Linked DNA regions of Homo sapiens. The protein of the gene in region 1 purifies or fractionates together with the protein of each later gene. This does not show direct contact. Each region holds a gene or a part of one and is shown on either strand. Other genes may lie near its edges.

Region 1 (3,824 bases):
CCTCCTGGGTTAAAACGATTCTCCTGCCTCAGCCTCTCGAGTAGCCGGGATTACAGGCACGTGTCACCATCCCCAGCTAATTTTTGTATTTTTAGTAGAGACAGGGTTTCGCCATGTTGGCCAGGCTGGTCTTGAACTCCTGACCTCAGGTAATTCACCTGCCTCGGTCTCCCAAAGTGTTAGGATTACAGGCGTGAGCCACCGCACCTGGCTGAGACTAGGTAATTTATAAAGGAAAGAGGTTTAATTTACTCAGTTCTGCAGGGTTGGGGAGGCCTCAGGAAACTTCCAATCATGGCCAAAGGGGAAGCAAAACACATCCTTCTTCACATCGCAGTAGCAAGGAGAAGGGCCAAGCAAAAAGGGAAAATCCCCGTATAAAACCTTCAGGTCTTGTGAGAGCTTGCTCATGATCACGATTTGGGTGGGAACACAGAGCCAAACCCTATCAGATACCAACTTTCCTAGCATTTGTGTGTTAACAGAAGTAGTCACTGTCCAGAATTTATAATGCTTATAAAAAATCTACACAGGCCTTTTTCATATACTGTTAAACCCTTAGATCTTGCTAAATATTTAGATATTTTAGTAATATCTAAAAAAGTATATATGATCTTAAAACATAAGATAAATAAACTACAAATATCTATTGATATATATTTCTTCAGTTTTTTCAATTATATTTTATAAGCATTTAAACTTGGATTATTTATATTTCAGGCACAAGTACTCTCAAGTTCATCAGGAATTCCAGGTCCTCCTGCAGCACCTCCATTGCCAGGTGTAGGGCCGCCTCCACCACCACCCGCGCCACCTCTACCCGGAGGAGCTCCTCTTCCTCCTCCACCACCTCCTTTACCTGGAATGATGGGGATACCACCACCACCCCCACCACCACTTTTATTTGGGGGACCTCCTCCACCACCACCCCTTGGAGGAGTTCCTCCTCCCCCAGGAATATCACTTAATCTACCTTATGGAATGAAGCAGAAAAAAATGTATAAACCTGAAGTGTCCATGAAGAGAATCAATTGGTCAAAGGTAATACTAAAACTAGAGTTTTTTTACTTTGTCTAGCTTTTGTTGATCATTGCTATGTGTACACATTGTATAATGTTTGAGAGTATGACTGCTGACTCTTTCCGTTCCTTTGTGGGTTCATCATTTTATGTCCATCTTTCAATTTAGGTTGTAGATAATTGGAAACTCTCCAGATAGTTTGACATTGTGAAGCAGGCAAAAGGAAAATCGAAGTGATGTAGAGAATAATATTTGAAATATACCAACAAATGACAAGCAATTTTGATTCTTTTAACATAGCTTTTCTTTAAAAATTTTTTATTGATATGTAATATTTGTACGTATTTATGGGGTACATATGATTTTTGCTACATGCATAGAATGTGTAATGATCAAGTCAGGGTATTTAGGATACCCATCACCTTTAACATTTGTCATTTGTTTGTGTTGAGAACATTCAGATCTTCTCTTCTAGTTATTTTGAAATATACAACATATTGTTAACTATGGTCACTTTACTGTGCTATCAAATGGTAGAACTTATTCCTTTTATCTAACTATATGTTCATACCCATTAACCTATCTCTCTTCACCCTCCCACCTCCCACACACACCCTTCCCAGTCTCTGGTAACTATCATTCTATTCTCTACCTTCATGATACTCACTTTTTAAGCTCCTATATATGAGTGAGAATATATGATATTTGTTTTTCTGTGTCCAGCTTTTTTCACTTAACATAGTGATCTCCAATTCCATACATATTGCTGCAAATGACAGGATTTCAGTCTTTTTTATAGTTGAATGGTATTCCATTATGTCTCAATACTATATTTTCTTTATCCATTCATCCGTTGATGGACACTTAGCTTGATTTCATATCTTGATTTCATATCTTTGCCATTGTGCCTAGTGCTGCAATAAACATGAGGGTGCAGGTATCTCTTTGATATACTGATTTCCTTTCCTTTGTATAAATACTCAGTGGTCAGATTACAGCATTATTGTATGGTAATCCTGTTATTTAGGAGCATTATTGTATGGTAATCCTATTATTTATATTTTTGAGAAATCTTTATAGTGTTTTCCATAATGGCTGTACTATTTACATTCCTAATAACAGTATATGAAAGTTCCCTTTTCTCCACATCTTTGCCAGCATTTTGTCTTTTTGATAATAGCTATTCTAACTGGCATAAGATGCCAGTAAGATACCTCACTGTGGTCTTGATTTGTATTTCCCTGGTGATTAATGATGTTGAGCACATTTTCATATATCTTGGCCATTTGTTTGTCTTCTTTTGAGAAATGTCTACTTAAATTATTTGTCTACTCTTTAATGTGATTATTTGTTTTGTTGCTATTGTTTGGGTTTCTTGTATTTTTTGGATATTAGTCCATTGTTGGATAGTTTGCAGATATTTTTTCCCATTCAACAGATTGTCTCTTTACTCTGTTAATTGTTCCCTTTTCTATGCGGAAGCGTTTTAGTTTAATATAATCTCACTTACCCATTTTTGTTTTTGTTTCCTGTGCTTTTCAGGTCTTAGCCACAAAATCTTTGCCTATATTAGTGTCCTGGAGCATTTGTCTTGTTTTCTTCTAGTAGTTTTATAGTCTCAGGTCTTATGCTTAAGTCTTTAATCAATGTTGAGTCCATTTTTATATATTGTGGGAGATATAGGTCAGGTTTAATTCTTTTGCAAATGGATGTCCAGTTTTCCTATCATCATTTATTGAAGAGGGTGTCCTTTCCCCATTGCATGTTCTTGGTACATTTGTGCCAAATCTGTTAGCTGTAAATATATGGATTTACTTCTGGGTTCTCTATTCTATTCCATTGGTGTATATATCTCTTTTTACATTAGTACCATGCTGTTTTGACTACTATAGCCTTGTAGTATATTTTGAAGTCAATGTCCTGCTTTGATCTTTTTGCTCAGGATTGCTTTGGCTATTCAGGCTCTTGTGTGGTTCCATATGAATTTTAGGATTATTTTTCCTATTTTTTGTGAAAAAATGTTAATGGTATTTTGATAGGGATTGCATTGAATCTGTAGATTGCTTTGAGTTGTATGGTCGTTTTAACAGTGTAAATTCCTTTATTCTATGAGCATTGTCTCTTTCCATTTGTTTGTGTCCTCTTTAATTTCTTTCATCAGTGTTTTGTAGTTTTTCTTATAAAGGTCTTTTACTTCTTTGGTTAAATTTATTCCTAGGTTTTTTATTTTTTTGTAGCTATTGTAAATGAGATTGCCTTTTTATTTTTTTTTCCAGCAAGTTTATTGTTCAGCTATAGAAACATTAATAAATTTTGTGTGTTGATTTTGTATCCTCCAACTTACTGAATTTATTAATTATATGAGTTTTTTGTGGGGTGTTTAGGTATCTCCAAATGTCAGATCATGTTGTCTGCAAAGAGGGACAATTTGATGTTGTCTTTTCCAATTTGGATGTCCTTTATTTCTTTGCTTGACTGATGGCTCTGGCTAGGACTTCCAGTACTATGTTGAATAGGAATGGTGAAAGTGAGCATCCTAGTCTTGTTCCAATTCTTAGAGGAAAGGCTTTCATGTTTTGTCCATTCAGTATGATGTTAGCAATGGCTTTGTCATATATGGCATTTATTATATGGAAGTATGTTCCCTCTCTGCCTAATTGTTGAGAGTTTTTATTGTGAAGGGATGTTACATTTTATCAAATGCTTTTTCTACATCTGTTGAGATAATTATATAGTTTTCATTTTTCATTCTTTTGCTGTGATGTATCACGTTTATTGAATGGCATATGTTAAACAATCCTGGC
Region 2 (3,824 bases), on another chromosome or scaffold:
GGAGTACAGAAGGATTTCCGGAGGTTTCCCAGGCAAGACGGATAAACATTAACATTTTAAAAAAATTATGGCTTATTTGATGCCTTTTCAACATGGATCCACTCACTTGAGCCCAGGAGTTCAAGACCAGCCTGAGCAACATAGACCCCACCTCTATATAAAAAAATAAATAAAATAAAAATACAAATGAATCCATGAAAGCAGTTTGTATGTAGAATTTTTAAAAGGCTCTAGGGCCAGGCGCGGTGGCTCACGCCTGTAATCCCAGCACTTTGGGAGGCTGAGGCGGGGGGATCACGAGGTCAGGAGATCGAGACCATTCTGGCTAACACCGTGAAACCCCGTCTCTACTAAAAATACAAAAAATTAGCCGGGCGTAGTGGCGGGCACCTGTAGTCCCAGCTACTTGGGAGGGTGAGGCAGGAGAATGGCGTGAACCTGGGAGGCGGAGCTTGCAGTGAGCTGAGATCATGGCACTGCATTCCAGCTTGGGCGACAGAGCGAGGCTCTGTCTCAAAAAAAATAAACAAATAAAAATAAAAAAATAAAGAAAAAAGGCTCTAAAGATGTTTGCTGTTATTTCTACAACTCGAATGCCGTGGTTTGCAACAAGGGGCAGATGTTTTATTTTGCAATGTCTGGAAACTTTATTTTTTTGATGGAGTTTCACTCTCGTTCCCCAGGCTGGAGTGCAATGGAGCGATCTTGGCTCACTGCAACCTCTGCCTCCTGGGTTCAAGCGATTCTCCCGCCTCAGCCTCCCAAATAGCTGGGATTACAGGCGTGCACCACCACGCCCGGCTAATGTTGTACTTTTAGTAGAGACAGTGTTTTACCATGTTGGTCAGGCTGGTCTCGAACTCCTGAACTAATTTGATCTACCTGCCTCAGCCTCCCAAAGTGTTGGGATTACAGGTGTGAGCCACCATGCCTGGCCTGGAAATCTTTTTGATTGGTTGTCCCAACTGGGGTGGTGGCACTGGCACCTAGTAGGCAGTGTTCAGGGATGCTGCCAAACATCCCTGGATGCACTGGATGGTCCCCACCACAGAGAATAACCCGGTCCGTATTGCTAGTAGTGCTGGGGTCAACCCTGCAGTTGTGTGTTGTGCTCCACTGAAGTTCAGGTGCTGGATACTGAATGAGGAATGAGCACCCGGGTCCAGATCCAGTTCATGTGCTGACTGCTGTGTCACCTGCAGAAAGCCACGTCAGCACCCCGCACCTCAGCACTCGGTGGGTCCATTTTTAACTAGAGATGACAGGCACCTGCTCTCTCACCTGGGGCTCGCAGGGAAGGCAGTGCGCTACTCATATGGGAGCTCCGGCATTTGGACGGCACAGTCTCCTTATTAAATATCTCAGTGACCTTAGTCATATTGTTAGTGAAATGGCAATTAGTTTTTCTAACTTTGGAGGGGGTAATAGATTAAGATTTCTGCACATAATACACAAAGACATTTAATATGGCTCCGTGGCTGCCTCTGAGGCCACGCTTCTCCAGTGGCAGTTCTACTGGTGGCGGAATGATATTTTTTGTTGTTTGGTTTGGTGGTTTGTTTGTTTTTTACCGCAAATTCATTGTCTGGGTTTTTCTCTCCCTTCCGGATTGGCCGAGAATATTCAAATCGCTGGACCTCGTTCACCCTGTAAAAACTGTACAGAGACAGACAGATCATTAGATATTTAACCCGGCAAATAGCCAATTTGCTTTTGGACACGGGGTCTGGCCTTAGAACATGTCACTGCCTCCTGTAAAATGTCCCTAACCTTGACCTGAAGCCATCGCCTTGGTGTCCTCTCCCAGCCAGGGAAATGTTGGCAGGTGGAAAAATTAACTTGAGTTTTTGCCTCTTCCCTGTCCCTGCCAACCCTCGAGGGAAAACAGAAGCTGAGTAAGAGTGAAATGAGCAAAAACAGAGGAAAGGTGAAGCGAAGGAGAGAGAAAAAAGCTTTTGTGTTCAACGTATGTGTTTATTATTATTTTAAAAAAGTATTACATACCTTAGTTTCAGATCTACAAAGCACAGATTTTGCAACCACCCCAAGAGTGACACACAGGAAACATAAGTAACCTGCCTCCGCGGTCGGGGTACGAGGCAGGCTTTCCGCATGCACAGGGCAGGGCGTGGAGAGACTGAGACTGATTTCTCCCCTGCACTGAAATGCAGGCAGGCTTCCACAGCAAAAGAAACTACTGCATCTGAGAAGGCTCTAAGCGTCACTATTTGCTTAAGGCCTCTGAAAAAAAATGTTGCAACCCTTAAAATGTATGCCTTGCGAGAGCAATCATTTGTAAATAAACAGGGTCCCAGTTTATTTCCCATTATTGCTGATGCAAGGTCAAAGAAACGATGAAAGGTTAAAGAAACCACCAAACTTCAGGAAGCAAAATGAAGCTGATCCTAAGGAATATGAGGTCATCAAAGAGATTAATATTTTCACCAGAACATGGATCAAACAGAACAGAAAAGTCTTAATATCAAACACATCTGCTAAAGCAGGTCTTTCTATGCCATTGCTAAGTCAGGTGCGATACAACTGACAGGCAGAAAATCTCACTCAAATATGGACAGTTGACTCAGGAGGTTTAAAAGCCCCCTCATAACCCTACATTATGGAATTGCTGTGCTGTAAGGCTGAAGGGTTCTCCTGTGTGTCACCAGGAGCAAATGTGCAAATCCCATTTCCCGCCTTCTAAAATGCAAACATTCAGGCCACACTCACATGTATGAACTTGGCTTTGCTGGGAACAGGCAGGACTTGTGCACTGCTGTGAAGTTCCCTAGGGGATTGTACCCCACAGGGCAGGTCTATAAAGGAGACCAGACGGCCTCCACTGCCCTCTTAGGTTTTTGCTGTCAGCTGACTTTGGGAAAGGAATAGGCTTTGCACGCTCCCAGCACATGGATTAACATCTCCTGTCACTTTTTTTGGATGCTGAAAATAATTAGCTTCCCTTGCTCTTCAAAGAGGACAGAAAGAGCATTTGGAAAGCGAATCCATGGCCAAAGTCCGTCCTTTAAAAGGTGGAATTATTAGCAAGAGATCTGTACACAGCCTCTTACAACCCTCACGTTGGGTAAGAAAAATGGGATTATTACCTTACAATCTGCTCTGACACTGGCCTGTGAAACTTAGGAGGCAGATCGAGTTTGGGCTTCACTGTGAAGCACTGAATATCTGAGGTGAGGGGGTTAAGGATCACTAAGGCAGCATAGACATCAACCATGAGAGAGGCCCCCCACCACACCCAACCACCCAAATGAATGGCATCACCATGGTTTCAGAGTTGATGAGGTTGTCTTAAAGGATACACTGGCCAGGAGAGTTTTTAATATCGTCGCCTGGTGGAGATGTTGTCTTCATTTTCTCGGCGTTTGGAAACTGAGTTAAGAGCCGAGCCTCAAAATCTTCCCGGCGCTCATACTCTTTCCCTCGGTAAATGAAAACTTTTCCCTGAAAAGGGTGACATTCATTTCATAACACCACAGAGAAAGGGCCAGGAAGAGTTCACATGCAATATGCTGGCCTTAAAATATGCCTTACGGGTTCTTACAAAATGTCATTAAATTTAAGAACAACTTGTAATTTTTATTTTTTTTTGTACTTGCGTTGGCTTTGTTAATCAAGAACACATGGTCATCAAGCATGTAAGTTAATACTGTTTAAGAAGCACTCAGCACTGCGCTACTAACATCTGTGATATGTTTTCATCTTGACAGTAACAACTGATTTAAAAACTATATGAAAAACCAAATGAGCACTCAGAAGCCCACACTAGAATGGGCATGAAATGGTTAGAAGGGGGCAAGGCAGCCAGG

The links.
Region 2: the proteins of DIAPH2 (region 1) and DOCK1 fractionate together in Homo sapiens (co-fractionation; one large-scale study listed by BioGRID). This does not show direct contact.

What each region holds. Positions count from the first base shown.
Region 1 is NC_000023.11:96,957,108-96,960,931, forward strand, and holds part of DIAPH2 (protein diaphanous homolog 2), read left to right. Parts: intron 1-720; coding exon 721-1,041; intron 1,042-3,824. UniProt on the Homo sapiens protein: Could be involved in oogenesis. Involved in the regulation of endosome dynamics.
Region 2 is NC_000010.11:127,408,672-127,412,495, reverse strand, and holds part of DOCK1 (dedicator of cytokinesis protein 1), read right to left. Parts: intron 3,460-3,824; coding exon 3,318-3,459; intron 3,184-3,317; coding exon 3,105-3,183; intron 2,242-3,104; coding exon of another isoform or gene 2,080-2,241; intron 1,657-2,079; coding exon 1,572-1,656; intron 1-1,571. UniProt on the Homo sapiens protein: Involved in cytoskeletal rearrangements required for phagocytosis of apoptotic cells and cell motility. Along with DOCK1, mediates CRK/CRKL regulation of epithelial and endothelial cell spreading and migration on type IV collagen.